Homo sapiens: one gene and its partners. The protein of the gene in region 1 purifies or fractionates together with the protein of each later gene. This does not show direct contact. Each region holds a gene or a part of one and is shown in the gene's direction. Other genes may lie near its edges. The genes, in order: NAXD, STX17, PRKACB, TMEM209, DDX19B, PON2 and PPT2.

Region 1 (3,500 bases):
CTGTGTGTGACAGGTTTGCAGAAGGTGGAAACGAAGGGCCTCTGAGCAATAACAAGACCCTTCCTGCACTCGGCACATATGTCTGGTGCCAGGCCCTAGCCTGTGTTCCATGGGTCAGCGTGGAACTGGGCAGGCAAAAACCTGCCCCCGTGGGGCTCCCCCAGACCGCCTATGCTATAGAGCTTGCTGTGTGGAGGTGTTCTCTCTGCCGTCCAGGATTGTGGCCACTGAGGGCTTGAAATGTGGCTGGGAGGTGCGGGAGCAGAGCGTTTGCTCTTGTTTACTTTTCATTGTGTGTGTTTGCACCGACTGGATTGGGCTGTGCTGCTCTGGAGACAAGGGAGAGGAGGATGTCAGGTGGTGAAGGAACCGTAGAGAGCGGCAGCAGGGAGGGGGCTGTGAGAGTGGGCAGAGGGGCAGTTGGGGCGGCAGCACAGTGTGATGACGCCTGGGTCGAGCCCGGCCTCTCCACACCAGAGAGGAGCCGGCGCGGAGCTCCAGGTGCGGTGCTGTGATGTGTCGGGTGACCAAGAGGTGCAGGGCTGGGCCCCACAGGGTGTGGGGCTGCTGTCAGGGCTGTGGCTCTGGCCCTGAGTAAGCAGGGCAGGGCCAGTGTGGGTCATAAAGGCTCCTACGCGGCTGTGGGGCTGGGCCGGAGGCTGTGGTAAGGACCTGTGGGAGGGAAGGGTGCAGTCAGATGGTGAGAGGGGCCGGATTCTGGGTATGTTTGGAAAGTTTGGGGGTGGAATTTGCCGACAGATTGGATTGGAAAAGGCAAGGGGCACAGACTCCACCAAGGGTTTTGGTCTGAGCGAGTGGTCACTCCATGTGGTGGAAACGGGCTTGGGTGGGATGAAGATGAGGCGTTGGGTGTAGGGCGCAGTTTGGCTGCCAGTTAGACATCCAAGGGACGTGGCTAGAGGGCATTGGACAGTGGGGACACGGGCTTGGGAGTCATGCACATGTGGACGGTGCTTAAAGCTGGAAGACGAGGGAGTAAGAGGCGGAGGGGGGCTGGGGTTGGGGGCAGGGGGGACTTGGCACTCAGATGCTGGGAGCACGGGCTGGGGAGGAGGCAGCAGGGGCCTCCAGGAGTCAGTGAAGCCGCTGTTTCCAGACAGCTCCAGAAGGGCCTGTGTGTGCGACTCTGGGTCAGTTGGAGATGAGGCCTGAGAACAGTTGGTGCATCTCACAGTGCGGGGTGACCCTGACAAGGGAGCTTGTCGGGGAGGAAAGGGGACAGAAGCCTTAACAGTGGGCTCTAGGAGAGGTCACACCGAACAGGAAGGAGTTCTGAAAAAGCAAACCCCTGCCCTGTTCTGAATGAGAAACTGCAGCAGGGTCAGTGCGTTGTGTGGGGCCTGGTCTATAAGCACACAAAGTAGGCTTTACAGCCACACATGTATGTGATGGAAACAAACGGGCTAACTTTAGAGGGCAAAGATGATTTTGAAAATAGCCATCGTTCTTTTTCTAACTTGTCGTAACTGTTGAAAGCTAGGCATGTAAATCTGGGCATTAAAAGAGAGATCAGGGAGAGGCAATGGCCACATGCAGTGTGGGGCCTGGTTTGGGTCCTGACATGGGAAGAGGACATCAAGAGGAAATGGGAAATTTGGAAAATGCTGTGGTTTAATGAATAGTATTAACCAATGTGAACTTGGTCATGCTGATCCGGAATGTGGGTGTGTGAGGCGTTAACCTCGGGGAGGCTAGGCGAAGGGTACATGGGAGCCTTCTGTACTGATTAAATAATAAATCTAAATTACAGAAATTATTTAAAAGTCATTACTATTTATAAGTTATTTTTTCAAAATAAAATGTAAACAAATACATGACAGTAAGTAAATGAGGAATTGTGGGTAACCATCCTGGCCTTCCTTTCCTTCTTTAGTGACAGCCCCAATGCTGTTCATGAGGTGGAGAAGTGGCTGCCCCGGCTGCATGCTCTTGTCGTAGGACCTGGCTTGGGTAGAGATGATGCGCTTCTCAGAAATGTCCAGGTAATGTGTATACTCACTCACTTCCCTCATGACAGGCTTAGCCTTAGGCGTGAAGTTGGAACAGAGGCATTTCTCTTGCATTTTGTGTAGTGTTCCGTGTGCCTCTTTGTGGCATGATTGAGATAAGATTTGAGGGACGGAGGAGAAACTGAGTGCAAAGGTGGGGAGGAACTGTGCTGAGATGTGCTTCTCTCCGGGCCCGACTGTTTTCTCATGGAGCAGCTGCAGGAGGTGTGTGTGTGGAGTTGCTCAGTTGTTTTATGTCTGATGTGAGGAGAGGGTGAGCAGGACTGAGGAGGTGACAGAGGTTTGGGGTCAGGCCTGGGTGTATCTCCCAGGCCACCCCCTTCTTGCTGGGGGATCCTGGGGTTCCCTCAGCCTCCTGGGCCGTTGTTCCCACACAGCCCTGGCGCCATGCTCTGCTGACATCAGGCTGTGAGGTGACACGGGCCTGCTTGTCCGTGCCCACATGCATATGCGCATGGACTCTCATTTATGCTGGTATTTCTTTCTTAAAGTTCATCTTATGCCCACCTAAATCCAAAAGATGAAAGTTATTCTGATCACTTTGTGCCTGCTGTAAATAAATACCACCTGGGATCAGGGGCGATAAAAAGATGGGGATGGCTGCCAGCTCTGTGTTCCCTGCGTCCTCTGACGCTCCCTGGGCTGGTGTGTCTCTGCTGGGGGTTGTGCTCCTGTGGGGCTGCCCTCTGAGACCCTTTCTCAAGTTCCGGGGGACCCCTGTTAGAGCTCCTGGGGGAAGACACAGTGTGCCAGATGGCTTGGTGCCACAGGGTGCTCACATGTGCAAGGCGTGGTGACTGCATGGGGATCAGAGGCCGGGCATTAGTGAGGGACTACGCTTGAAGCCCTTAGAAGGTGCCTGGCCATTTTGTGTTCCCCAGATCAGCAGTCACCCTGAAAATGCCAGCCATCTGCATGGCACTCTGTTGGGTGCTTAGTTAATGGAGGGGTCTCTGAGGCTGCGGGGCTTGAAGGCGGCGAGTGATGGAGCCAGCAGTGCAGGATGAGTCATCTGAGGGGCAGGCAGACGCAGGCTGACACTGCACAGACCAGGAAAAGCGGCGTGGAGTCAGCACGGGAGCCCGTCTTTGAGCTTTAAGGTCTTACCCGCTCACCGGGAAGGAGGAGGTGGCCATGTTTAGGAGCAGTAGAACCCTCTGTCATCCCCGGGGAGAGGCTCTCAATGGGGAGTCCCATCTGCAGGCTGCGGGTCTGCGGTGCACGGCTGCTGCTTCCTGTCCAGCTCTGCATCCTGGGGGTGCGGATGAATTAGAGGTGAACGAGCCAGAGTGCTCTGCTTCAGGTTATTTTCTTTGTGAATTTAAGTTCACAATTTAAAAACTGGTATCTTAAAAAACCACTGTACTGCGTGGAAGTGTGAAAGGTGGGAAGTGAGGGTGTGCGTCGCTGCCCCTGCAGCCCAGACTCTGGACCTTGCATTCTGGTTCCTGTACACTGTTGCCGTGGTCT
Region 2 (3,500 bases), on another chromosome or scaffold:
CATGTATTTAGGCAAATTTGGTTTCTTTTTAATGTATGCTACTTGAGGCTGATGTGCTTTTTCAGTTTGAGGTCTTACATTTTAATTATCAGTATATTCTCTTTGAATAATTCCTTCTTACTGTTTTCTTTGTTCTTTCTTTCTGGGACTTCTACTTGTTATTAAGCTTCTGATTTTATCCTTTATGTCTTTTATCTTCTTTTTTATACTTTTCATCTTTTTATTCCTCTGTGTTCTGAGTGATTTCTTCCAATCAATAATTGTTTCTTATCTATATAATTTACTGTTTAACACATCTTTTGAGATTTTCATTTCTAGAAGTTTTACTTGTTTTATATTCAGGCTGGCCTCTTACTGTTTCATAATATCTATTTTTTTAAAAGATTCTGTTCCTTTTTGGAATAGAATGTTTTTGGATATTTAAAAATATACTTACTTTAGTTTCTTTTTAAAATTATTTTATTATCTTTCGTCCATTAGGTATGAATTTTCCTGTTTTGTTGGGTCTGTGGATGGTCTCTTTTGGTAATGAATTTCTCCATATGTCCCCAGTTTCCATTCACTGTTGCACCTGTTTTACCCTCTTTGTTTTTGTACCTGGAGATTTTCCTTTTTGACTTTTGAGCCTTGTATCAAACATAAAAACCAAGTTACTAATGGGTAGGTATTGGAGGCAGTCTATATAACCAACACATCAAGATTTTCAACTGTGAAAGAAAGGGGATAAATATTTAATGTTTTGGGGATGATAGATCTCTGAGAATCCCTTGAAACAATGGACTCTATTCTCCAAAATAAACTATATTCACTTTTTTTTTCTTTTTTTTTTTTTGTAGAGATGGGATTTTGGCATGTTGCCCAGGCTGGCCATGAACTCCTGGGCTCAAGTGGTCCTCCCGCCTTGGCCTCCCAAAGTGCTGGTATTACAGACATGAGCCACCGTACCCGGCCCCTTCATTCACAATTTTTCATAAAGATTCAGTGGCTCCACAAAGTCTGTATGTGAATTCCTATCTTTATAGACCCTGGACTAAGACAGCATAACTCAGCAGTATTAACATACTCAACTTAAAATTTTTTAAACATGGGTGAGGTTGTGGCTAATGAAATGGCATGAAAGCATGGTGTACAATGGTGGCTTTCAAGCTTGGTTAAGCTGTGAAGCCCATTATTTATATAAGCTCTGATAAGCTCCAATTCATAAAATAGTTGTAAGTAAAGTTTCTACAACTGAAGTAGGGAGTGGAGTCCTGGAACCTACTCACCTCTAGCCCCTACGCTTGTACTCTGGCCCCAAATGCATACCCTTGGACTTTCTGGAACACTAGTAGGAAACTACTGGTGAAGTGGAAAAAGTATTTCAATGTAATTTCAGAAAATCTGGGTTCTTATTCCAGCTCTGTCACTGGTTTTTTGAATCAGTTGTAGGCAATACTAATCACTTTATTGAAAATGGAAGAGGCAGTTTAAAGCACATCAATGAGAAAAGTTGCATATTATGTTATCATATATTTGAAGTTGTGTAATTACAAAGTTACATTATGATGACATTAGACATGAAGTTTGATACAAGCATCAGTGTTAAGCCATTTGATACCTTTTTTAAAAAGGTTATTCAATGTCCAAGATAGATCAGAAAATGAAAACTTGGACAGTATACTCCTAGCTTTTTTAAAAGTATTTATATACATACATACCTACTTACATAGAAAAAGACCTGGAGAGACGTATGCCAAAATGTAAAGAGTACATTTTGTACTCTTTGTAAAAGGTGAGGAGATGACTGCTGACTTTATTTAATTCTTCATTTATTTATATTGTCTGAACATTCTAAAATATAATTTTTGTAAAGAGAAAAAGATTTAAAAATCAGTGGTTTCATAAAGAAAAAAACAAGTCACTCAAGGTCAGCATTAGAAATATTCTATTTATTGATTTAGAATAAATTGTAAAACTAATCGTTGGCTTTTAAAAATAGTGGAAACAGATTTGAAAACATTCTTAAAGAAATATTTTTCTTTTAGGTTTTTCTATATGAGTGGAGAAGACAGCTGTTACCAGGGAGGTCATACAACATTTTTTTAGGATGTCTGAAGATGAAGAAAAAGTGAAATTACGCCGTCTTGAACCAGCTATCCAGAAATTCATTAAGATAGTAATCCCAACAGACCTGGAAAGGTTAAGAAAGCACCAGATAAATATTGAGAAGGTGAGCTGTTTCATTTACTACCACAAGAAATAGTTACATAGTTTGATTTATATTGGTTGTTCATTTCAGCTAAATTTAGAATATTAGATAAGAGGCATTGCTGAAACACCTAGCTCCTATTGATTTAGCAACATTATGCATTTTTTAGCTGGTTTTTCTGTTCTGCATATATACCTCTCATATATTCCTTTTTCTGGGAAGGGATATAGGAATAGAGTCTATGCTTTTTTGTTTGTTTGTTTGTTTGAGAGACAAGGTCTTGCTCTGTTGCCCAGGCTGGAGTGCAGTGGCATGATCATAGCCTACTGCAACCTCAAACTTCTGGGCTCAAGCTATCTACACACCACTATCCGTGGCTAACTTATTTTTATTTTTTTGGAGAAACAAGTTCTTGCTTTGTTGCCCAGGCTGGTCTTGAACTCCTGGCCTCAAGCTGTCCTCCTGTTTTGCCTTCCAAAGTGTTGGGATTACAGGTGTGAGCCGTGGCGCCTGGCCAAGTCTATACCTTTTTAATTGTACATATTGAGGTTTTAGGCAGTTAATAATTAAGATACAAATTGATTGATGGTGCACTATAATGTAAAGGCAGAGAACTTTGGCTAATGTACCTGCCTTAATTTCATTCACCCCATGGCAAGTTTTTGAACTTTGAGTGTGTGTCTTTCAGTAACTCGTATTCTCTTTAGGTATACATACATTAAAGAAGTAAATCATTGTGAGATATGAGGGAATTTCCTTACTTCACAGCTTCCCTTTGAGGAAAGCTCACAATTGAGAAGTACTGCCTAATTCAGTTGAGGAAATAGGTAAGGAGAAGATGAATTAGTCTCAGGGACTATGATAGAGGTTGCATAGAACCTACCATGCTCCGGTGAAGTGGCTGTGGCATTTTTGGAAACATCAAGTTTACTCAGTACTGAGCATTAATTTGGCAGATTATGTTGTCTTATTTGCTGTGGGACAGGCCAGTGATATTTTTTGTTTCAAAAAGACTTTTCCCAGCATAAGTCTTAAGCTGCAGAACCTCCATTTATTTATTTATTTATTTATTTATTTATTTATTTATTTATTCATTCATTCATTCATTCATTCATTCATTCATTCTTTTGAAGGTTGGGAGTGGAGGATATGGTCATTAAGCCTTTCAATATAAACATTATTCATTACTCAACTCAGTAGCATATAGAAGTCAGAAAAGTGTACCTTTTTCTTCCATAGATACCATCTGTCTTTCTAGAATTCAAGTCCTTTTAAAAGTGGAGAAAATCAGTTCTGAGAATATTAAAATGAA
Region 3 (3,500 bases), on another chromosome or scaffold:
CCACTTGATCATGGTGGATAAGCTTTTGGATGTGCTGCTGGATTTGGTTTGCCAGTATTTTATTGAGGATTTTTGCATCAATGTTCATCAAGGATATTGGACTAAAATTCTCTTTTTTGGTTGTGTCTCTGCCTGGCTTTGGTATCAGGATGATGCTGGCCTCATAAAATGAGTTAGGGAGGATTCCCTCTTTTTCTATTGATTGGAATAGTTTCAGAAGGAATGGTACCAATTCATCCTTGTACCTCTGGTAGAATTCGGCTGTGAATCCATCTGGTCCTGGACTCTTTTTGGTTGGTAAGCTATTGATTATTGCCACAATTTCAGATCCTGTTATTGGTCTATTCAGAGATTCAACTTCTTCCTGGTTTAGTCTTCAGAGAGTGTATGTGTCGAGGAATTTATCCATTTCTTCTAGATTTTCTAGTTTATTTGCGTAGAGGTGTTTGTAGTATTCTCTGATGGTAGTTTGTATTTCTGTGGGATTGGTGGTGATATCCCCTTTATCATTTTTTATTGCGTCTATTTGATTCTTCTCTCTTTTTTCTTTATTAGTCTTGCTAGCAGTCTATCAATTTTGTTGATCCTTTCAAAAAACCAGCTCCTGGATTCATTAATTTTTTGAAGGGTTTTTTGTGTCTCTATTTCCTTCAGTTCTGCTCTGATTTTAGTTATTTCTTGCCTTCTGCTAGCTTTTGAATGTGTTTGCTCTTGCTTTTCTAGTTCTTTTAATTGTGATGTTAGGGTGTCAATTTTGGATCTTTCCTGCTTTCTCTTGTGGGCATTTAGTGCCATAAATTTCCCTCCACACACTGCTTTGAATGTGTCCCAGAGATTCTGGTATGTTGTGTGTTTGCTCTCGTTGGTTTCAAAGAACATCTTTATTTCTGCCTTCATTTCGTTATGTACCCAGTAGTCATTCAGGAGCAGGTTGTTCAGTTTCCATGTAGTTGAGCGGTTTTGAGTGAGATTCTTAATCCTGAGTTCTAGTTTGATTGCACTGTGGTCTGAGAGATAGTTTGTTATAATTTCTGTTCTTTTACATTTGCTGAGGAGAGCTTTACTTCCAACTCTGTGGTCAATATTGGAATAGGTGTGGTGTGGTGCTGAAAAAAATGTATATTCTGTTGATTTGGGGTAGAGAGTTCTGTAGATGTCTATTAGGTCCACTTGGTGCAGAGCTGAGTTCAATTCCTTGTTGACTTTCTGTCTCATTGATCTGTCTAATGTTGACAGTGGGGTGTTAAAGTCTCCCATTATTAATGTGTGGGAGTCTAAGTCTTTTTGTAGGTCACTCAGGACTTGCTTTATGAATCTGGGTGCTCCTGTATTGGGTGCATATATATTTAGGATAGTTAGCTCTTCTTGTTGAATTGATCCCTTTACCATTATGTAATGGCCTTTTTTGACTCTTTTGATCTTTGTTGGTTTAAAGTCTGTTTTATCAGAGACTAGGATTGCAACCCCTGCCTTTTTTTGTTTTCCATTTGCTTGGTAGATCTTCCTCCATCCTTTTATTTTGAGCCTATGTGTGTCTCTGCATGTGAGATGGGTTTCCTGAATACAGCATACTGATGGGTCTTGACTCTTTATCCAATTTGCCAAGTCTGTGTCTTTTAATTGGAGAATTTAGTCCATTTACATTTAAAGTTAATATTGTTATGTGTGAATTTGATCCTGTCATTATGATGTTAGCTTGTTATTTTGCTCGTTAGTTGATGCAGTTTCTTCATAGTCTCGATGGTCTTTACATTTTGGCATGATTTTGCAGCAACTGGTACCGGTTGTTCCTTTCCATGTTTAGCACTTCCTTCAGGAGCTCTTTTAGGGCAGGCCTGGTGGTGACAAAGTCTCTCAACATTTGCTTGTCTGTAAAGTATTTTATTTCTCCTTCACTTATGAAGCTTAGTTTGGCTGGATATGAGATTCTGGGTTGAAAATTCTCTTCTTTAAGAATGTTGAATATTGGCACCCACTCTCTTCTGGCTTGTAGAGTTTCTGCCGAGAGATCCGCTGTTAGTCTGATGGGCTTCCCTTTGAGGGTAACCTGACCTTTCTCTCTGGCTGCCCTTAACATTTTTTCCTTCATTTCAACTTTGGTGAATCTGACAATTATGTGTCTTGGAGTTGCTCTTCTCGAGGAGTATCTTTGTGGCGTTCTCTGTATTTCCTGAATCTGAATGTTGGCCTGCCTTGCTAGATTGGGGAAGTTCTCCTGGATAATATCCTGCAGAGTGTTTTCCAACTTGGTTCCATTCTCCCCATCACTTTCAGGTACACCAATCAGACGTAGATTTGGTCTTTTCACATAGTCCCATATTTCTTGGAGGCTTTGCTCGTTTCTTTTTATTCTTTTTTCTCTAAACTTCCCTTCTCGCTTCATTTCATTCATTTCATCTTCCATTGCTGATACCCTTTCTTCCAGTTGATCGCATCGGCTCCTGAGGCTTCTGCATTCTTCACGTAGTTCTCGAGCCTTGGTTTTCAGCTCCATCAGCTCCTTTAAGCACTTCTCTGTATTGGTTATTCTAGTTATACATTCTTCTAAATTTTTTTCAAAGTTTTCAACTTCTTTGCCTTTGGTTTGAATGTCCTCCCGTAGCTCAGAGTAATTTGATCGTCTGAAGCCTTCTTCTCTCAGCTCGTCAAAGTCATTCTCCGTCCAGCTTTGTTCCGTTGCTGGTGAGGAACTGCGTTCCTTTGGAGGAGGAGAGGCGCTCTGCTTTTTAGAGTTTCCAGTTTTTCTGCTCTGTTTTTTCCCCATCTTTGTGGTTTTATCTACTTTTGGTCTTTGATGATGGTGATGTACAGATGGGTTTTTGGTGTGGATGTCCTTTCTGTTTGTTAGTTTTCCTTCTAACAGACAGGACCCTCAGCTGCAGGTCTGTTGGAGTACCTGGCCCTATGAGGTGTCAGTGTTCCCCTGCTGGGGGGTGCCTCCCAGTTAGGCTGCTCAGGGGTCAGGGGTCAGGGACCCACTTGAGGAAGCAGTCTGCCCGTTCTCAGATCTCCAGCTGTGTGCTGGGAGAACCACTGCTCTCTTCAAAGCTGTCAGACAGGGACATTTAAGTCTGCAGAGGTTACTGCTGTCTTTTTGTTTGTCTGTGCCCTGCCCCCAGAGGTGGAGCTTACAGAGGCAGGCAGGCCTCCTTGAGCTGTGGTGGGCTCCACCCAGTTCGAGCTTCCCAGCTGCTTTGTTTACCTAAGCAAGCCTGGGCAATGGCGGGCGCCCCTCCCCCAGCCTCACTGCCACCTTGCAGTTTGATCTCAGACTGCTGTGCTAGCAATCAGCGAGACTCCGTGGGCGTAGGTCCCTCCAAGCCAGGTGCAGGATATAATCTCCTGGTGCGCCGTTTTTTAAGCCCGTGGGAAAAGCGCAGTATTCGGGTGGGAGTGACCTGATTTTCCAGGTGCCGTCTGTCACCCCTTTCTTTGACTAGGAAAGGGAACTCCCTGACCCCTTGCGCTTCCTGAGTGAGGCAATGCCTTGCCCTGCTTCG
Region 4 (3,500 bases), on another chromosome or scaffold:
GCCAGGATGGTCTCGATCTCCTGACCTTGTGATCCGCCCGCCTTGGCCTCCCAAAGTGCTGGGATTACAAGTGTGAGTCACTGCGCCTGGCCAAAGTGGAGATTTTCTAATTATTTATTTCTACACTTCATAGTTTGGCATTCTTCTCTAAAGAGGAGCATTCTGTTTTACCCCCACCCCAGCTTTTTTGGTTTAGTCACTGTGGACTCATCAGCTCTTTCTTTAGTAATGTCTAAACTGTTATTTAACTAATTCATTGAGTTTTTTAATTTCAGCCACTTGTTCTCATTTTATAGTTTTATTTGGTCCTTTTCAATTATGCCAGGTTTTTGTAGAATATTTTTTATTCTTATGTTTTCAGTTCCTTTTTCTATCTCAGTTGCTTAAACACACTTTTTAAATGTTATTTGTCCAATAGTTCAATTATCTAAAGTTCTTGGAGGTTAAATACTGACCATTTTTGTCTTGTTGGTTGTTAGGACTGCAGTCTTGTTTCCTTGTGATTGATGTAATTTCTGTTTGTTTCTGGTAAGCTTATCTTGGCTGGATGGAAGCCTTGTCTCTTCCTAGCTGTTTTGTATTTGCCTCTGTCAGGTGCCTTAGGAGTATTATTGACTTTGAGCTAACTTAAGTAATTTCTAAGCTTGGAGATTCCTGGACCTCACAGGTAATATAAATGGGCACTCTAAACCCATGTGAAGATATATCTATAATTTTTAAATCTCAGGGTGTTGTTTTTCTTTTTTTTTTTTTTTAAGTCTCCCAACAACCTATGACAGACAAGCTTTCATTATCTCCTGGTCCCATTGAACAGATTTTTTTCTTATCTACTCTGAATGTGGCCCTTTGAGATTCCTGGTCCTCTACCAGGACCAGGGACTAGGGGTAGGAGAAAGGTGTCAGCCCAACTCTCTGCCTCTTAAGGGCCCAAATCCTTATCTCCGTTTCCCACTTGGGCAATGAATCCAAGCTGATAGATTTCTCAAGGCCTACAAAATTCTCTAGAGCAGCCACGCCACAGCAGCCTCTTACAGGCTATTTAGATTTTTAATTCTCTTTTCATTTTTAACCACTGGCTATTCATAGCCTTACTTTTTTGCAAGCTCCATTATTCATCTTAATAATGTTGTTTTTTTTTTTGAGATCGAGGTTTTTTTTGTTTTTGAGATAGAGTCTAGCTCTGTTGCTCAGGCTGGAGTGCAGTGGGGTGATCTCGGCTCACTGAAACCTCCGCTTCCCGGGTTCAAGCAATTCTCCTGCCTTAGCCTCCTGAGTAGCTGGGATTACAGGCATGCACCACCATACCTGGCTAATTTTTGTATTTTTAGTAGAGACAGGGTTTCACCATGTTGGCCAGGCTTGTCTCGAGCTCCTGACCTCAAGTGATCTGCCCGCCTCGGCCTCCCAAAGTGCTGGGATTACAGGCGTGAGCCACCGCGCACTGGCCTAAAGAATGTATTTTATTTAATAAATGTTTTTAGATATTTATAGTGGGAGATGTTTTAGGTTGTCTGGTTTCCTGTGTTGCCCAGATTTCCAAATCTCCATGTGCTTTGACTCTTAGGTCTTTGAGGTTCTCCAGCTATAGATTGTGTGCTGTTGTTGTGGTGGTGGTGGTGGTGGTGATGGTGGTGTTCATCATGGAAAGGCCCTATTTTGTCATTACTTGCTATGTACATTTTTTCTTTGCTTTGACTAATGCCCAGAGGTACTAGAACTTCCTATTTCTATTCATTGTCTAAAGCCAGTCCTCAATGAAATTTTACTCAAATACAAGTTTTTTCATAGAAAACTTACGTTTCTTAAAGTTAATAATCGCAATGATTAATCAAATAGGATAACTTTATGCTCTGTTATGACCATGTTTTTACTTTCCATTTCTGTTCTCTATTTATTAAATCATTTATGTTGGTTGACAACTGCTTTTCTTGACATTAATTCATTCCTAAAGTCAGTTTTGCCAGAATTTCATACAGTGTGATGTTTCTTTACTGTATATAACTTTTTATGCCAGCATGAAACATTCACCAACGCTAACAAAACTAGCTAACCATCAAAATTTTGATGAATTATATTGCTACATACCCGTTTGATGATTCCTAATTCTTTGTACCCGTAAGCATAAGGAAAATGAGTTTTATTATTTTCTAGTCATTCCTTTTAGAATTCTGCTAAGATTAAAAAAAATTGTTTCTATTTATAAGTTTTGTTTGAGGGTATAAAGTACCAATTGATATTTTTTATATCAGTTAAACTCCGAAAATATAAGCCCTTCATAAATACCATATAATTGTTGTCAAAAACTTGCTTATTTATTCAGGCGCTATGCTAGATGCTAGGGAAAAAAAATGCTCCCTGCTTTCAAGGAGCTCAAATTCTATTTGGGAAAACAGACAAAAACTATAACCCGGAAGTGTGATTAATATCCTGGTTCAGAGGCCTCTGTAGGAGTACATTCCTAAATAGAACTTTTTTTTACATTTCTTAAAAGTAAATTTATAAATTTAGAAGGATAACCATCAGATAGTCTTTTAGTACAACTCAGGAATTACCACAGGCTGTTAAGTAAAACACAGTGAAGTACAGGGACAAATAAGTTTAGCTTGTTACCAGGAGAGTAATCTTTTAGTAGGAGGCTATAGTTATCCCTTTTAGAAAGAGCTTCTAGAAATTTCAAATAAAGAACTTGCTTGGCCTATTTATTTCCTAAAGAAATTTGTCTTTTGTTTGTTTCTTACTAAATGATTTAAAAGTCTTAGAGAATGAAACGAGCTTAACTTTTCAACAGAACTAGACAGATGCCTTTGACTGCTTATTGTTTTTATGACTGTTAAATTGATATGGCTCAGAAAATACTATTTAAAATTTTTAATCACAAGCAGACTGTGATCTCTAAAGAGAAAATTATGTTGGGGAGAAGAGAATCTCCTTGAGGGTTGGTCTTCTGATTCCTGGATTGCCATTGCCTAGATATAAGTGTTAACTGTAGATGTCAGAATTGCTACAACACACTGATACTGTTTATCTTAACAATTGTAGGGAGCCCAGATTCTACCTCTCCTTCCAGCAGTCCTACTTTCTGGAACTATAGTCGTTCTATGGGGGATTATGCACAAACTTTAAAGAAGTTTCAGTATCAGCTTGCCTGTAGGTCTCAGGCCCCATGTGCTAACAAAGATGAAGCCGATCTCAGCTCTAAACAAGCCGCAGAAGAGGTAAGTGGAAAATAAAAGTGACTTAATATTTATGATTTATGCATTGTTAGAAAGTCTTCTACTTCTGGAACATTTTTTCTGTAATCTTCCATTCTGTTGGACAGAAATGTAAATCTGGCACACATTAGGCAGTGGGAAAGCTCCTGTCTTACTTTGTGTGCCTAAAACTAAAAACTAAATTATATCATACATTTTACTCTGTGACACACAGTTCACCTTAGCGCCCTGCCTGAAACATATTTTTACATTGATTATAAAAAGGCTCTCAGGTATATAATTGTACTT
Region 5 (3,500 bases), on another chromosome or scaffold:
TTGTCCATTTCCATGAATAGAAATGGGAGGCTGGGCGCGGTGGCTTATGCCTGTAATCCCAGCACTTCGGGAGGCCGAGGCGGGCAGATCACGAGGTCAGGAGATCGAGACCATCCTGGCTAACACGGTGAAACCCCGTCTCTACTAAAAATATAAAAAGTTAGTCGGGCATGGTGGCAGGCGCCTGTAGTCCCAGCTACTCCGGAGGCTGAGGCAGGAGAATGGCGTGAACCTGGGAGGCAGAGCTTGCAGTGAGCCAAGATCACGCCACTGCACTTCAGCCTGGGCGACAGAGCGAGACTCCATCTCAAAAAACAAAACAAACAAACAAACAAAAAGAAATGGGGCTCCTGGCTGGGTGCAGTGGCTTACGCCTGTAATCCCAGCACTTTGGGAGGCCGAGGCGGGTGGATCACGAGGTCGAGAGTTCGAGACCAGCCTGACCAACATAGTGAAACCCCGTCTCTACTAAAAATTCAAAAATTAGCTGTGCGTAGTTGCACACGCCTGTAATCCCAGCTACTTGGGAGGCTGGGGTAGGAGAATTGCTTGAACCCAGGAGGCGGAGGTTGCAGTGAGCCAAGATCGTACCACTGCATTCTAGCCTGGGCGACAGGGCAAGACTCCGTCTCAAAAAAAAAAAAAAAAAAAAAGAGAAATAGAAATGGGGCTCCTCCATTCTCAACAAACCACCAATTAAAACATTTTTTTGTTCTCTCCTCTCTACCCTCCTTCCCCTTTCGCCTGTTCTTGGACTTAGAGGGACAACAGAAATGCGGCCTAATGCGTAGTTCACACTTATAATTCTAGCACTTTGGGAGGCTGAGGCAGGAGGATCGCTTGAGCCCAGGAGCTCAAGACCAGCCTGAGCAACACAGTAAGATCCCAACTCTACAATAAAAGATTAGCTGGGCAGGCTGGGCGCAGTGGCTCATGCCTGTAATCCCAGCACTTTAGGAGGCCAAGGTGGGCGGATCATGAGGTCAAGAGATTGAGACCATCCTGGCCAATGTGGTGAAACCCTGTCTCTATTAAAAATACAAAAATTAGCTGGGCATGGTGGTGCATGCCTGTAGTCTCAGCTACTTGGGAGGCTGAAGCAGGAGAATCGTTTGAACCCAGGAGGCGGAGGTTGCAGTGATCTGAGATAACACCACTGCACTCCATCCTGGCAACAGAGCAAGACTCCGCCTCAAAAAAAAAAAATTAGCTGGACATGGTGGTGAGTGCCTGTAGTCTCAGCTACTTGGGAGGCTAAGGCAGGAGGATTGCCTGAGCCTTAGGAGGTTGAGGCTTCAATGAGCCATGATCATGCCACTGCACCACTCCAGCCTGGCCAACAGAGTGAGACCTCGTCTGCAGAAAAAAAAGAAAGAACCATTAGGTTGTGATTTTCATTTTCTTTTTACTAGATGATGTCTTAGGCCCTGCTTGATATTTTATGATTAGGGTTGGCTTTAGCTTGAAAGGTTACTTACTCACGCCAGACTTTCCATCTATCTAATCCCTGTGCTGGGGTCCAAGACTTACAGATGCTTTCTGACCTTTAAAAAAGTCTTTTTTGGCCAGGTGCGGTGGCTCATGCCTGTAATCCCAGCACTTTGGGAGGCCGAGGCAGGGAGATCACGAGGTCAGGAGATTGAGAACATCCTGGCTAACATGATGAAACCCTGCCTCTACTAAAAATACAAAAAAATTAGCTGGGGGTGGTAGCGGACGCCTGTAGTCCCAGCTACTCCGGAGGCTGAGGCAGGAGAATGGCATGAACCCGGGAGGCGGAGCTTACAGTGAGCTGAGATCAGGCCACTGCACTCCAGCCTGGGCAACAGAGCGAGACTCTGTCTCAAAAAAAAAAAAAAGGCTTTTTTGTTTTGTTTTGTTTTTAATAAAAATGTACGACTAGAAAGGCCGGGCGTGGCAGCTCATATCTGTAATCCCAGCACTTTGGGAGGCTGAGGCAGGCGGATCACGAGGTCAGGAGATCAAGACCATCCTGGCTAACACCGTGAAACCCCATCTCTTAAAAAAAAAGAAAATACAAAAAATTAGCCGGGCGTGGTGGCGGGCGCCTGTAGTCTCAGCTGCTCGGGAGGCTGAGGCAGTAGAATGGCGTGAACCCGGAAGGCAGAGCTTGCAGTGAGCTGAGATCGCGCCCCTACACTCCAGTCCAGGTGACAGAGCAAGACTCTGTCTCAAAAAACAAACAAACAAAAAATTTACGACTAGAGCACTTACTTTGCTCTGTACTACATCCAAAGGCCAAAAATAGAAATATGCTACTCTGGGCACATTTCCTGTGGGGTAGCCCTGCTCCTCAAGGAGCAGTAGAAAACGAAATAGGCCCTGTCAGGAAGGTATTTGCATTCTAATAGAGGAGATAAGACCTGCTAGGATATCCCTAATATACAGTATTTGATCAAAGTCTTAGTAATTATTCTTTGAAATGTCTCTTTCCTTTCTATTTCCACTTCAGCCCAGTGGGTATTTTAATTACACAGTGTGCCACAATGCTTCAGGCTGTTCCCAACTACAGTATCAGACACCAGCAAAAGGTGACTTGAATGTGAGGCTGCACATCAGCATACTGTGGTCTTACGGCTCTAACGTATCCTGCAGTATGACTGATTCCTACCCACAGATGCTTTTCTTTTCTTTTCTTTTCTTTTTTTTTTTGTGAGACGGAGTTTCACTCTGTTGCCAGGCTGGGGTGTAGTGGCGTGATCTTGGCTCACTGCAACCTCCGCCTCCTGGGTTCAAGCGATTCTCCTGCCTCAGCCTCCCAAGTAGCTGGCACTACAGGCATGCACCGCCACGCCCAGCTAATTTTTGTATTTTTGGTAGAGACGGGGTTTCACCATGTTGGCCAGGATGGTCTCGATCTCTTGACCTCGTGATCTGCCTGCCTGAGCCTCCCAAAGTGTTGGGATTACAGGCGCGAGCCACCGCACCTGGCTTTACAGATGCTTTTCATCACAGTCCTCCCTTCCCAGTGTTCTCCAAAGTATGACTGCATTTTTCAAAATCTCTTTAAATTTCCTCTTGTTTGAAATATGATTTGGAATGCAGCGATTCCCCCCCACACACAAAAGAAATATGAGAGAATGACAACTCTAATGATATTCTACAAAGAGAGAAAGTTTATAATCAGGGCATTAAGCAAACTCACAAATTACAATTCTCTCACAGAATTTTAAGTAGAAGGTACAGATTTGGAGCATTTTTTTCCACCGATGTATTTACGGGAAATTTTGTTTATTCTCATCAGACATTTAGTAAACGGAACAACCCAATGAATTGGTCCTAATGAATATACCTTGAGAATGGCTATTTTATCCCCAGCTTCATTAGGGAGGCTCTGTTGATTCCAAATCTTTTTAAGTGCTTTTCCTGACACTTTCCCCCTCCCCCATATTCTCCATTTAGTTGAGCAACTTGCATCTTAAGGAAGAGAAAATCAAACCAGATACCAATGGTAAGTAACTAATAGCTAGTTTGAAAAC
Region 6 (3,500 bases), on another chromosome or scaffold:
ATTTTCTCTTGGCTTCTTTGCAGTCTCTGTGTGAGGCTTACAGTCATTTTTCACGTTTGACTCTTCAGAAGGAAGACAGGGCTACTGGTTCTACATCTGGAACTCTTTTCCCACAACACCAACACTGAGAAATGTGACATGGTGCTGTGTTTACATTTGCATAGGAACTTGCATTATAAGTTTTATTTGTTGAGTTATTGGCTTTTTTTTTTTAATAACCCACATCAGTATATAGAACTTTGCAATAGGCATTTTTGTTTTAACTTCATTTCTGGTGCAGTTTTATTTTCCTACCCTTGTCTTTCTATTTTCTCTTTCATCTGCTTTAGACTTAAACTGTGTTTTATGTATTGCTGTAAGCCTCTTTAAACCCTTTCTAAAACAAAGCAGGGAATACATAAACAAATAGTTTTTTGTTTTTTGTTTTTTTTTCTTTGTAACAGAAATCGACTTAAAGCCTCCAGAGAAGTAGAATCTGTAGACCTTCCACACTGCCACCTGATTAAAGGAATTGGTATGTATATGAAAATGCTTGTTGGGCACATTGCATTTTTTGGCCATTAACATTAAAACACTCATTAATGGCATTTTAGCATGAAATTACTGCTTTTCAGTGGATAAATCACATTAGATCAACAAAAACCTCTTTGGTCAACCTCTTGATCTGATGAACCCTGTATTTATTCTTCTTTCCTACCCTCACTGTAAATTATTCTTTTTTGTGTGTAATTCTATGTTTAGCATTTGATTTCTTGCTTGTTTTGTGACTTCTCTGAACTATTTTTGTTGCGTCTGTATTGTTTGTCAGGTATGGCCGCTGCAGTCTGTGTTCTGTGAGCCTTGTGGTCAGCTAGTGAAGGAAGCTTTATGTAGGCAGTGACAGCATTTACCCTGCTCACTACTCTATAACTAGGATCTGATCTTATGGCTAACACGTAACTGACCAATATGGTTTGGTTGTGTCCCCACCCGAATCTCATCTTGAATTGTAGTTCCCATAATCCCCACGTGTTGTGGGAGGGACCCAGTGAGAGGTCATTGAATCATGAGGTGGTTACCCTGTGCTGCTGTTCTCGTGATAGTGAGTGAGTTCTCATGAGATCTGATGGTTTTATAAGGGCTTTTCCCCCTTTTGCTCGGCACTTCTCCTTGCTGCCGCCATGTGAAGAAGGGTGTGTTTTCTTCCCCTTCCACCAAGATTGTAAGTTTCCTGAAGCCTCCCCAACCACACGGAACAGTGAGTCAATTAAACCTCTTTCCTTTATAAATTACCCGGTCTCAGGTATGTCTTTATTAGCAGCCTGAGAACGGACTGATGTACCGGCACTTCACAATATGTATTGTAAAAACTTGTTTTTATTTTATCTTCTAAGCTATGACTGCAGAGGGGGAGTCTCCCTCTTCCCTTGACTTTATGTAGGATGTATTGTGGAGTCTGAGTCTTTGAGTAGGGGTTCCTAAGAGCAAGCCCCAATTTTGCTATAGATAAGGAGGGATCTGTCCAGATTCTTCTCCAGCACTGAGGGTCTCTCTGGTGTGTTTGCAGTTTTTCTCCAAGGTAGAGTCTGTGTCTTGCTGTCTTTTACCCTTTATCATCTACTAAGTACATGTCCCTAGTACATAATAGACTAGTAGTTAGATTATCAATGAACAATAAATATTGGCTTTCCTTTTTTTTAAATTTTAATTTTTTTTTTTTTTTTTTTTGAGAGGTGGCCTCACTTTGTCACCCAGGCCAGAATGCAGTAGCGCAATCTTGGCTCACTGCAGCCCTGATATCCTGGGCTCAAGCGATCCTCCCGCCTCGTCCTCCCAGGTAGCTGAGACTACAGGCACATGCCCCCACTCATGGCTAGTTTTTTATTTTTGTAGAGACAGGGTCTTGTTATGTTGTCCAGGCTGGTCTTGAACTCCTGGCCTCAAGCAATCCTCCCAGCTTGGTCTCCCAAAGTGCTGGGATTGCAGGCATGAGGCACTGAGCCCAGCCAATATTGGCTTTCCTTAGATATGGTTCATGGTATGATTAGAAACAAAAAGAATTAGCAGTCAAAACACCTAGTTTCTAGTTCTATTCTGCCACAATGTAACCTTAGGCAAAGTTGGTTTTTGTATTTGTCACCTATAATGATGAGTTTGTGATTAGACTAATGGTTTTTAGACTTTAAAAAGCCTGGGACCATTTATTTATAATCTTACTCTGAGAGCCACAGTGTGGAAATAACTAGACTGTCATTGAGTCACTTCTAGTCCTTTACAACAACATCCTTCTCTAGAGGTAGGAGAGACAATTTAATATTTTGTTTTACTCTTTAGAAATTAAAACTCGGGTTACATGGAAATGTTCTCTTCTCTGAATAGGTAACATTGTTAAACAAGTTTTGAGTGTCCTTCCATCTTTTTCTTTTTATGAATACTCCTGTACATAATTTTTAAAAACATAAGTGAGGTCAAATTATGCATAATATTTCAAAACTAGCTTTTTGTACTTAATACTAGGTTTTGGAAACTTATGTTTGTACATAATGTTACCTTTTCTTCACAACTGCACAGTATTTTTTGTGCAAAGTTCATATAAACAGTGTATGTGCAAACAATATAGAAAGATATAAAATGGAAAGTAAATAAAAATAAAAATCTCTCATCAAACTCTTCATCACCCCCAACAGAAATAACCCCAAAGATAAAGCTCCCTTTTTTATCTTTCCTGATAGTTTCAGTGCATTTGCAAACAAATATATTGACTCTTTTTTTCACAAATAGAATTTTAGTGTAAATATTTCACAACCTTCTTCATTCCTAAAACAGTGTGAGCAGCTTTCCACATCAGCATATATAGTTACTTTGTTCTTTTTAATATTTTCACATTCCATGATTTATTTAACCATTCCCCTTTTAATGTACATTTGGGTTGTTACAGTTTTTTGCAACTATGAACAAATCAGTGAACATCATTGCTGTTGAGTTTGTGTGTCTGTAGAATATGTCCTTAACAATGGGATTGTTGTTCCCTTAGAATATGTGTTTAGAGTTTTGACAGTCATTGCTAAGTTGCTCTCAATTTGGCAACAGTAATAAACTCAGTACCTCATAGTTGTAACCACATTCACTCCAGACAGAGTTCTCAGCACTCTTTTAGTAAAAATAAACCATCAGTTGACAGTGCCACCTTCAGAGTTTCTCTACAAATACCTTGCTTGCCTCCCTTTCTTTTTTTCTTCTTTTAAATCAGCTTCCTCAGGTTGATCTGCCTCTCATTCCTTAGGCATCTGTTTCCTATGTGTTCTTTCTCCTTTTTTTCATTGATACTTTTGTATTTCCCCAGTTCTACCTCCCCTCCCCTAGACTGGTTGGCTGTCCTGGAATTTCCCTTCCTTCTTTCAATTGCCCAAACACTAAGTGGGAGGAGGCAAACTCATATCAAATAGCAGATTGACTACATCTGTGCTGGATCATGCAGACAGTTCAAGAGTCCCAAGTAACTTAGCAGCTTCATCTTGCCT
Region 7 (4,291 bases), on another chromosome or scaffold:
TAATGTGTGCTTGTTCCCCCACTTTCCCTTTGCTTTTGAGGCTGCTTAGAGTCTCTGGGCTGGTCAATGTTCAGATCCATTCCCTAAACCCCCCTACTCCCACCCACCACCTCCCACCAAGACGCATCTCCAGCTCCTGAGTCGACCTGCAGTACAGCGTTATTAGTCTTTTTATTTGCTTATTGCATCTTGGGAGCGCGTGGGTGGGTGAAGGGAGCGAGGATAGGAAGTCTATGGAGATTTACACCAGTTTTTTTTTTTTTTTAAACAAAAACACAGCCAGATAATTATTATTCTTCCCTTACGTCCCCCCAGCCCCCACCTGGGGCAGTCGCTCTCCCGGCTGCGTCCCTTTTCGTCCATGTCCTAGCAGAGACTACAGAGCAGTACAGAGGCTCTCGCTGAAACCAGTCCCAGGCTCCACAGAGTCAGATCACGGCTTCACACCAGTCGTTCTGGTCACTTAGGCGTTCGCGTGAGCGCTCAACCCCTTACCGCCACCTCATCGTCACTCTACACCATTCTGAGCGCAAAAATGTTTTGATTGAGACAAATTTAGACCAAGCAATGACCTTGTAAACAGAGAGAGGGGCTCAGACATGCTGAGAAATCCTTATCTCTAGAGAAACGTCTTTAAATGCTAAGTAAAAGCCCTAGCAAGTAAAAGCCCTGAGGCACTAGGGTGTCGGTTAGGGGTCACAGGCGGAGAGGTGGGGCGCCTGGGGGTTTCGGTAGGGAGCCACCCACAGATAACTCAGACAGCCAGATTCTGGGGGTCGTTCAGGTTGAAAGACTGGTCGAAATTACGCGGGCATGAGTCAGCGCATCCCTACGCGCCCTCCGCCCCTTGAGGGTGGGTCGCTTATAGGGAGGGGAGTAGAGTAGGGCAGGAGAAACTGGGCCAGGCTGCACTTAGCTCAAGGGGCCTCGAGGACTCTCTGCGTCTCTGGAGACAAGGGCACTACACGCACTTCAGAATGAAGAGTTGTAAGTCGCTGACCTGGGGCGGACTGGAGGGTGGGGTGGGGTGGGTGTTGAGGGGCACGCCCGGGCTGGCATCAGCCCTCCAGGCCACCCTGCCACTCACCCAGCACACGGCAAAATGCAGAGGACTACCTTTCCCTGGTCCGCCCCCTGGCCGCCCCTTGGGGAATGCAAACTTCGTGTTCTGCTGCGGAGCCAGACGCCTGTATTGGGAAGTGGGGAGAATCAAGGCGGGGAAATCGGACTTTTGGGTCGCTGGGGGCAACGAAGCCTGGAGAGGCCTTCTTTCCATTCCCAGAATATGTTTGCTGCTTTTTCCTCTCCCCACTGGCCTAAATGGATCGCTCCGCCTGTTTCCTCCCCAGCACCTAGGGCGCAATGGAATATTCCATTGCCCCTCCTGTCCTGGGTCTGTGTTGCGGGGAACGCTCGCGCGGTTGCCAGAGAAAGCCCCGGACGTGACGGATTTGCGCGACCCCAAGCAGCCCGCCCTTCCCCCTCCCATCCGTCATTCCCCTGCGCTCTCTTTCCTCACCCTTCCCCCCGCCACCGTGGGTTCCAGACTTGGGATAAGTAAACAGCGGGTGGAGCGAGGCCTACGGACCCAGGCCAGGTGGGAGTCTGCACTCTTCAAGGGGCCTGGGCTGCTGCTCACGGGTATTAAAGAACTCCGCGTTGTTCATGGCTGAGGCGATGCATTAGGAAGATCCTGGACCTAGAGAACAAGTCCCCCGAACGCTGAGTTGGAGGCGGGACTTCGGGTGCGCGTTGGTGCGTCAACGTGGTGGGGGGGTGTGTTTGTAGGGAGAGGGCTGGAGTAAGTTAAAAGTAGGCTATTTTGTGACACGGACCTGGTGTGGGAGCGAGAGGAGGTGGCTTGATTGCCGGGCGTCTGTTCCGAGGGAGGAGGGTGTTGCCATCTCCCTCACATGCCCTTATCACCCCTTTCTCAGGCGGGAGCATGCTGGGGCTCTGCGGGCAGCGGCTCCCCGCGGCGTGGGTCCTGCTTCTGTTGCCTTTCCTGCCGCTGCTGCTGCTTGCAGCCCCCGCGCCCCACCGCGCGTCCTACAAGCCGGTCATCGTGGTGCATGGGCTCTTCGACAGCTCGTACAGCTTCCGCCACCTGCTGGAATACATCAATGAGGTCTGGCAGGGGACACCTGGGTGCAGGGCGTTAGAGGCGTCTACTGTGGCAGGGGAGGGAGAGCGGGGAACTGAAAGCCACCCCTCTGGGCCTGCCCAGTTCCTCAGGGAGCTGGTGCTGGCGTGGGGGAGAGTTGGGGGACGGGATCCCTGGTTCTAGCAGGGTACAATAGACCTGTGGACGCGGGCCAGGGGGTGGCGTGTGGGAGCTTCTTAGCCTATCCCCGGTGGCTGCATTGCCCCCTTCCCACAGACACACCCCGGGACTGTGGTGACAGTGCTCGATCTCTTCGATGGGAGAGAGAGCTTGCGACCCCTGTGGGAACAGGTGCAAGGGTTCCGAGAGGCTGTGGTCCCCATCATGGCAAAGGCCCCTCAAGGGGTGCATCTCATCTGCTACTCGCAGGGTAGGCGACTCCCCTGCCCCTAACTCCTAAGCCCTATCTGAGGCTTGATCCTTATCTGAGGGACACTTCCTAGCGTCCCTTTTTCTGAACCACATTGCTCCAGGCACAACCCTGGTACCTGAGCCCTTCCTTTCTGACTTCCCTCAGCACCTGGGTCTCATCTCTGTCTTGAATGGGAGGGAGGCTCCCTACACTGCTGCCCTTTTGCTTCCTGTTACCCATGGTTCTTGGACATAAGGGCTAATGGGGCAGGTAAAAACATCCTAGAACTAGAGGCAGGAGGCCCAGCATCTAATTCGGGCTCAGTCACTTATATGATGTGTGACCTTTTGGCACAGGGTGTGCCTGCCTTCTGTAAGCCTCAGTCTCCTTTGTGTACAGTGTGTGTCTGTGTGTGTCTCTGTGTGTGTGTGTGTGTGTGTGTGTGTGTGTGTGGTGGGGGTGGGGGGTGCTGCTGGCTTTGCTGTCCTTAAGTGCCTGCCCAATGTGGTGTTCTGCTTACAGGGGGCCTTGTGTGCCGGGCTCTGCTTTCTGTCATGGATGATCACAACGTGGATTCTTTCATCTCCCTCTCCTCTCCACAGATGGGACAGTATGGAGGTGAGTGGGCACTAGACTCCATAGAATGCCCTGAGTTTTGGGGGAACAGAGGTTTATGGTCACTTAGCATTGCCATTCGCTTGCCAGACACGGACTACTTGAAGTGGCTGTTCCCCACCTCCATGCGGTCTAACCTCTATCGGATCTGCTATAGCCCCTGGGGCCAGGAATTCTCCATCTGCAACTACTGGCATGGTGAGTGGGGATGCTGAACTGGGGCTTCCATGGATCAGGTCAGTTGCTTCCACCTCTGCTACAACCAATAGCAGTGATGACAATAAAGATAACTTACATTTATTGAGTTATTTGAACAGGCTCTGTTCAGAATTTTTTTTTTTTTTGAGACGGAGTCTTGTTCTGTTGCCCAGGCTGGAGTGCAGTGCACCATCTTGGCTCACTGCAACCTCCGCCTCCCAGGTTCAAGTGATCCTCCTGCCTCAGTCCCCCTAGTAGCTGGGATTACAGGCAGGCGCCATCATGCCCGGCTAAGTTTTGTATTTTAAGTAGAGATGGAGTTTCGCCATGTTGGCCAGGCTGGTCTCGAACTCCTGACCTCAGGTGATCCACTCGCCTCGGCCTCCCAAAGTGCTGGGATTACAGGTGTGAACCATTGCACCTGGCCCAGAATGTTTTAAGTGTGTCACCTTATTGCCTTAGAAGGTTTAGTCTGATGTGGGAGTCAGCAAACCTTGTCTATAAAGGGCCAGAGAGTAAATATTTTTGACTTTGTAGGACATATAGTCTGTTTCACAACTCCTCAATTCTGCTGTTGTAGTGTGAAAGCAGCCATGTACCATATGTGAATGAATGTGCCTGTGTTCCAGTAAAACTTCATTTACAAAAACAAGTAGCAGGCTGGATTTGGTCCTTTGGTCACAGTTTGCCAACCTCTAGACCAGACCATGGGGCCAGAATACTTGGGTTTGAATCTTGACCCTATTGGGTGCCTTTGGGCAAGTTACTTAACCATTCTGTTACTCAGTTTTCCTTATCTGTAAAATATTATAGCATGTACTTCACCAGGTGGTTGTAAGGATTAAATAAATAAATGAATGCAATGTACTTTGAATAGTACCTGGCTCATATAGTAGATACTAGATAGAAGTACTTGCTATTGCCAGGTGTGGTGGCTCACACCTGTAATCCCAATATCTTGG

What was found.
Region 2: the proteins of NAXD (region 1) and STX17 purify together in Homo sapiens (affinity purification with mass spectrometry; one large-scale study listed by BioGRID and IntAct). This does not show direct contact.
Region 3: the proteins of NAXD (region 1) and PRKACB purify together in Homo sapiens (co-immunoprecipitation; one large-scale study listed by IntAct). This does not show direct contact.
Region 4: the proteins of NAXD (region 1) and TMEM209 purify together in Homo sapiens (affinity purification with mass spectrometry; one large-scale study listed by BioGRID and IntAct). This does not show direct contact.
Region 5: the proteins of NAXD (region 1) and DDX19B purify together in Homo sapiens (affinity purification with mass spectrometry; one large-scale study listed by BioGRID and IntAct). This does not show direct contact.
Region 6: the proteins of NAXD (region 1) and PON2 purify together in Homo sapiens (affinity purification with mass spectrometry; one large-scale study listed by BioGRID and IntAct). This does not show direct contact.
Region 7: the proteins of NAXD (region 1) and PPT2 purify together in Homo sapiens (affinity purification with mass spectrometry; one large-scale study listed by BioGRID and IntAct). This does not show direct contact.

What each region holds. Positions count from the first base shown.
Region 1 is NC_000013.11:110,625,545-110,629,044, forward strand, and holds part of NAXD (ATP-dependent (S)-NAD(P)H-hydrate dehydratase), read left to right. Parts: intron 1-1,894; coding exon 1,895-2,003; intron 2,004-3,500. UniProt on the Homo sapiens protein: Catalyzes the dehydration of the S-form of NAD(P)HX at the expense of ATP, which is converted to ADP.
Region 2 is NC_000009.12:99,913,154-99,916,653, forward strand, and holds part of STX17 (syntaxin-17), read left to right. Parts: exon of another isoform or gene 1-998; intron 999-2,024; 5' UTR 2,025-2,086; coding exon 2,087-2,209; intron 2,210-3,500. UniProt on the Homo sapiens protein: SNAREs, soluble N-ethylmaleimide-sensitive factor-attachment protein receptors, are essential proteins for fusion of cellular membranes.
Region 3 is NC_000001.11:84,231,271-84,234,770, forward strand, and holds part of PRKACB (cAMP-dependent protein kinase catalytic subunit beta), read left to right. Parts: intron 1-3,500. UniProt on the Homo sapiens protein: Mediates cAMP-dependent signaling triggered by receptor binding to GPCRs.
Region 4 is NC_000007.14:130,184,907-130,188,406, reverse strand, and holds part of TMEM209 (transmembrane protein 209), read left to right. Parts: intron 1-3,039; coding exon 3,040-3,215; intron 3,216-3,500. UniProt on the Homo sapiens protein: Nuclear envelope protein which in association with NUP205, may be involved in nuclear transport of various nuclear proteins in addition to MYC.
Region 5 is NC_000016.10:70,309,186-70,312,685, forward strand, and holds part of DDX19B (ATP-dependent RNA helicase DDX19B), read left to right. Parts: intron 1-3,423; coding exon 3,424-3,472; intron 3,473-3,500. UniProt on the Homo sapiens protein: ATP-dependent RNA helicase involved in mRNA export from the nucleus.
Region 6 is NC_000007.14:95,421,529-95,425,028, reverse strand, and holds part of PON2 (serum paraoxonase/arylesterase 2), read left to right. Parts: intron 1-443; coding exon 444-514; intron 515-1,340; exon of another isoform or gene 1,341-3,500. UniProt on the Homo sapiens protein: Capable of hydrolyzing lactones and a number of aromatic carboxylic acid esters. Has antioxidant activity. Is not associated with high density lipoprotein.
Region 7 is NC_000006.12:32,152,650-32,156,940, forward strand, and holds the start of PPT2 (lysosomal thioesterase PPT2 isoform a precursor), read left to right. Parts: upstream 1-1,491; 5' UTR 1,492-1,755; intron 1,756-1,937; coding exon of another isoform or gene 1,938-1,945; coding exon 1,946-2,128; intron 2,129-2,380; coding exon 2,381-2,534; intron 2,535-3,038; coding exon 3,039-3,134; intron 3,135-3,221; coding exon 3,222-3,329; intron 3,330-4,291. UniProt on the Homo sapiens protein: Catalyzes the cleavage of thioester bonds from S-palmitoyl-CoA or S-palmitoyl-N-acetylcysteamine (unbranched structures) but does not have activity against palmitoylcysteine or palmitoylated proteins, branched structures or bulky head groups.